2 separate regions of the Homo sapiens genome follow, and region 1 is linked to region 2. Evidence: fine-mapped expression QTL. A gene starts in region 2. The other region holds a variant in brackets. All regions are shown on one strand. Distances are from middle to middle. Region 1 has its middle 23 kb from the start of UGT2A1. Region 2 holds the start of CSN1S1 (casein alpha s1).

Evidence for each region. PIP is the estimated chance that this variant, and not a neighbour inherited with it, causes the effect. A credible set is the group of variants that fine-mapping cannot tell apart.
Region 1: its variant is the best candidate, but not a certain one, in a credible set for the expression of CSN1S1 in fibroblasts (GTEx, PIP 0.86).

The regions. Positions count from the first base shown.
Region 1 is chr4:69,674,354-69,677,286 of GRCh38, forward strand. No RefSeq gene overlaps it. Among named protein-coding and RNA genes, the nearest start is that of UGT2A1, 23 kb to the left of the region's middle. The variant A/G (reference allele first, on the strand shown) is at 1,647.
Region 2 is chr4:69,929,514-69,932,446 of GRCh38, forward strand. It overlaps CSN1S1 (casein alpha s1), which reads left to right and starts at 1,555. Exons shown (of 16, transcript NM_001890.2): 1 at 1,555-1,604.

The DNA of each region.
Region 1 (2,933 bases), 260 kb before region 2:
CTATAAGAGGCAGGGGCACCAAAGGTGAAAAGGTAAACACCTTGTGTAAGATTTCACTAAAAGCCCAGAAATTACTTCAAGTCCTGGAACATGTCCCGGGACACTGCTCCCAGAATGATAAAGTCCGGGAGGGGGTCCCAGAACATTGCTCCCATAATGATTGTTTCAGTGTTGCTTGCTTGGGAAGGGGCCTCCTGAGCAAACAAAAGAGGGTGCCCAAAGTAACAACTGGACTTAATAAAGGGAGTTTACACAAAGGAGGATTGAAGGCTGTTGTGTGCTGGGGAACAGCACCAACGCCAATTGCAGGATCCCAGGTGTCTGCCTTCCCACTCTGATGATGACTCTTCCTGTGGTCTGGTGAGCTATGGTTACATGTTGTCTTCTTTTGCTGGTTCGTTTATACCTACTTAATGCTGCTTTTGCTGTGATATTTGCTTACAACTTTTACTCCAGGATGCTAGGCGTCTGCCTTCTGACTCCGGTGATGATTCTTCCTGTGGTCTGATGAGCTTCTGGTTACATTTTGTTGAGCTTTGGTTACACTTTTTTCTTCTCTTGTTACAAGGCTGTTTTTGTTGTGATATTTGCTCACAGTAATAAAGTTTTAGTTTTCCCATCCCCCTCACTTGAGTGCTCAGCTCATTCTTCCAACACTGTCTTGAAACAATCCTCAACATAATAAAAGCCATATATGACAGATATATTAGTATATTCTTGCATTTCTATACAGAACTACCTGAGACTGGGTAATTTATAAAGAAAGGAGGTTTAATTGGCTCATAGTTCTTCAGGCTGCATAGGAAGCACGGGTGGGGAAGCCTCAAGAAACTTACAATCATGGCAGAAGGTGAAGAGGAAGGAGGCATGTCTTCACATGGCAAGAGCAAGAGGAAGAGAGAGCAAAGCGGGAGGTACTCCACACTTTTAAACAACTACATCTAGTGCGAACTCACTCACTATCATGAGAACAGAAAGGAAGAAATCCACCCCCATGATCCAGTCAGCTCCCAACAGGCCCCTCCTGCAACACTGGGAATCACAATTAGGCATGAGATTTGGGCATGGACACGAATCCAAACAATATCAACAGACCCATATCTAGTATCATACTAAATGGGGAATAACCGAAAGCCTTTCCTCTAAGATCTGGAACATGACAAGGATGCCCACTGTCACCACTGTTATTCAACATAGTACTTGAAGTCCCAGCTGGGGCAATCAAACAAGAGAAAGATAAAGGACATGGAAATTGGAAAGGAAGAAGTCAAATTATCCTTGTTTGCAGATGATATGATAATATATTTGGAAAAACCTAAGGGCACCACTGAAAAACTACTAGACCTGATAAACAAATTTAGTAATGTTGCAGGATATAAAATCAACATACAAAAATCAGCAACATTTCTACATTCTGACAGCATACAATATGAAAAAGAAATAAAAAAGTAATAGCATTTACAATAGCTACACATAAAATTAAAAATGAAAAGATATTCCATGTTCATTCGTTGGAAGAATCAATATTGTTAAAATGTCCATATTACCCAAAGCAATCTACAGATTCGATGCAATCCCTATAAAAATACCAATGACATTCTTCACAGAAATAGAAAAAACAATCCTAAAATGTGTGTGGAACCACA[A/G]AAGACCCCAAATAGCCATAGGTATCCTAAGGAAAAAGACACAACTGGGGTAATCACATTCCCTGACTTCAAATTATATGACAGAGCTATAGTAACCAAAGCAGCATTGTACTCACATAAAAACAGACACAGAAACAAATGGAACAGAATAGAGAACCCAGAAACAAAAACCACACACGTACAGTGAACTCATTTTTGAGAAAGGTGCCAAGAATATACACTGGAAGAAAAGACAGTCTCTTCAATAAATAGTGCTGGGAATACTGGATATCCATATGCAGAAGAATGAAACTAGCTCCTATCTCTCACCAGCTACCAAAATCAAATTAAAATGAATTAAAGACTTATATCTAAGACCTCAATCTACGAAACTACTTCAAGAAAACATTTGGGAAAATTTCCAAGACATCGTTCTAGGCAAAAATTTATTGAGCAATTCCTTACAAGCATAGGCAAACAAAGCAAAGACAGAAGAACGGGATCACAAGTTAAAAAGCTTCTGCACATCAAAAAAATACAATTCACAAAGTAAGGAGAAAGCCCAAAGAAATGGAGAAAATATCTGTAAACTACCCATCTGACAAGGGCTTAATAACTAGAGTATATAAGGAGCTTGAACAATTCTATAGGGGAAAAAAATCTAATAATCCAGTCAAAAATGGGCAGAAGTAAGCATTTCTCAAAAGAAGAAATACAGATGGCAAACAGGCATATGAAAATGTGCTCAACATCATTGTTCATCAGAAAAATGTAAATCAAAACTGCAATGAGCTATCATCTCACCCCAGTTGAAATGGCTTATATCCAAAAGACAGACATTAATAATGATGCTGAGGATGTGGAGAAAAAGGAAATGATGGTGGAAATGTAAGTTAATACAACCACTATGGAGAACAGTTTGGAGGTTCCTCAGAAAACTAATAATTGAGGTACCATATGATCCAGCAATCTCACTGCTAGGTATATAGTGAGAAGAAAGGAAATTAGTGTATTGAAGAGATATCTGCATTCCTGTTTGTTGTAGCACTCTTCACAGTAGTCAAGATTTGGAAGCAACGTATGTGTCCATCAAGAGATAAATGGATAAAGAAAACGTGGTACATAATGCACAATGGAGTACCATTCAGCCATAAGAAAGAATAAGATTCTGTCATTTGCAACAACATTGGTGGAACTGAAGATAATTATTTTAAGTGAAATAAGACAGGCACAGAGAGACTAACGTCACATGTTCTCACTTATTTGTGGAATCCAAAAGTCAAAACAACTGAACTCATAGACATACAG
Region 2 (2,933 bases):
GTGGATAAGCTTTTTGATGTGCTGCTGGATTTGGTTTGCCAGTATTTTATTGAGGATTTTTGCATCGATGTTCATCAGGGATATTGGTCTAAAATTCTTTTTCTGTTGTGTCTCTGCCAGGCATTGATATCAGGATGATGATGGCCTCATAAAATGAGTTAGGGAGGATTTCCTCTTTTTCTATTGATTGGAATAGTTTCAGAAGGAATGGTACCAGCTCCTCCTTGTACCTCTGGTAGAATTCGGCTGTGAATCCATCTGGTCCTGGCCTTTTTTTTGGTTGGTAGGTATAGCTTGATTTTGAGTTAGGAGTAAAATAAATCAGTTTTCCTGGGTACACTTCTGGGAAAAGACAAAACCAAGGTACTGTAATACAGCTGATGCTTGTCTCAGCCTCTTAAATGAATCACAGTGAATAGGAAACACTAGTAAGTTGTTGAAATTTATGTGATGTAGTCAGTAAGGAAAACACTAACTAAAGAGAACTTTAATATGGAAAAGTACATCTCTTCTGATCCCCAATCTGAAATTAACCAGTCTGAAATGTGTGTTAACCCAGAATAATGCCCTTTTCATATGACTGTGAAAAGGCTGTAAATATCATTACTATTTTTTTATTTCCTAAAATATATAGTATGATTCTTTTCCTGTAAAAAAGCAAAGTCGCAGTCAACAACAATTTTTAAAAACCCTCTCTATTACAGATATTTTCCTCAGGATATAGTATTTTTCTACATTGTATAATGATAGTTAACATAAAGGAACAGAGTCTGGGATAGGAGAGAGGCATTTTCATTTCTTTCCTTTATTTACTTTTAAAAAACAGGAAATCAGAGGTATGGCATAATTTTCCAAAATCTTTTAAAATTAAAATTAATGAATAAATATTACTTCTAATTAGTCAATGTTATAATTTGTTAAATAAATACTATCACAACCAATATGCCTAAAAGAAAGCAAACAAAAAATTGTCTGCTGTAGCTTAAATATCACCAAAACACATAGGACAGTTGGATATCCTTCTTTGAAAAAAAGATCAGAGCATATACAGTATAAGTTAATCCATAAAGCAGATAGTCACAATAAATAATAGAGGACAAGCTGCATTTTAAAAGGTAAATAAATGATGAATTCTTTTAATGGCCTGGTACACTGATAGAAATTGGAACGTTTCTAAGACCCTATTTTGTCCCCAGGATTTCCATTATAGGAATTGAATTTTTCAAAAGATATACAGAGAATTTTATTAATATGTTCCTGTCAAATTATCCCTTCAACATAAAATCATGTTTTTATAATAGCCATAAATTTGGAAATTTTTGTATTTTAATTTGCAATAATGCCACTTTATTTCTTGTGTAATCTGTTATCATAGCATGAATCACTCCCTGTTGAAAATTCTCAGAATTTCCTGGGAAAGGAATTGGACAGAAAATTAGTTTCCTATTTGGGAGAATTCTTAGAATTTAAATAAACCTATTGGTTGAACTGAAACCACAAAATTAGCATTTTCTAATTACCACATTTAAATAGCGTAAAGCAAAGAGATCGGCCATCATCTTGGTCATCAACACAACTTGCTTCTCTCCAGACTTGGGCTTAAGGTACTGCGTTTACATACAGCAAAATTGCTATCATTTTACATTATCTAATCTCTTTCTTCCACTGTTTACTAAGTATATTTGTACCATTTCCATATGTTTGCAAATATTAAAACTTCTTATGATTTTCTGGCACCTTAAAAATCCTTTTGCAAATTCTGATACCATTTTACAGCTTTAGGTGATGAATCAATACAGTTTTATAAAAATACCAAATCATTTTTTGATAATTTTGTAACTAAAATATATTTTTAAAGTTGATACATAATTTCAGTAGAGGCTTGGGGTAAGCTAATTTAAATTATTTTTACCTAATTCTATGAGAAGTTGTTATGCAAATAATTTCTTATTTTTGTAATTACCATAGCAAAAACCATTTCTAGCAGAATAGTTCAAGGCCATTTTTGTTTCATGTCATTTGGGCAACAAAATTAACTCTACAATGTGAATATCTATTATAGATAATTAGCTATTGATGGCTACTTTGTAATGATTATTAAATTTAGATATTCAGAAAGACACAAATAGTAAATTTATTTGGGTTCAAAAATATGCCTTTTTTATTAACACATTTAGATTCTAAAATTTGTAGACTGAAGCAATATATATAAATGTCAGCATTTGTATGTTGATTAAGGTGTGAACAAATAGTATGTGTGACCTGATTTTTTTTCTAATGATTTCTCTGGAAACCATTTTCCCAGTACATGTGGATGTCCATATTTCGGGGTTCTTGCAATTTAATGAAACTCTGGAAATCAAATATAAGACATGTCAATATTTTGATTCTATCCAATTCAATCATCTTTATATATTTATGTCATGAATATTCCAATGTAGCAAAACACGAAGTTATGGCTAGATTCTTTATTTAAAAATTGAAAGAGATCAATAGCTTTTACATAACGTGCAGACAGGATTTTTCATGAAGACTCTAAAAGAAAAGAATGCTCTCAAATAGATTTAAAAGAGAAGCTCATTTTCAAAACTTTTCAATAAAATTAAATTCCAGTTCTCAGTGGATTTAACTTTATTGCCCACTTTAGAAAATCTGATTTGTCATCTAGGAGGAAAAGTGTTTTCTTTTTTCAATTGTATTTCAATATTAGCACTTCTTTATTTCTCTAAGCCATATTATTACATTAAGAACAAAATGTTATGTTTTAAAGTGTTAGTGAAGAAAAATGTTTGTAAGAAATTAGTATTTCTAAATAATATAAGAACTAAGAAAAATAACTAGAATGGTAAACATTGATATTGAGTAGTAAAGTTTTTAAAATCTTAAGTTTATAAAAATTCACATTACAGCTCCTCAAATCAGCCTACTTTTAT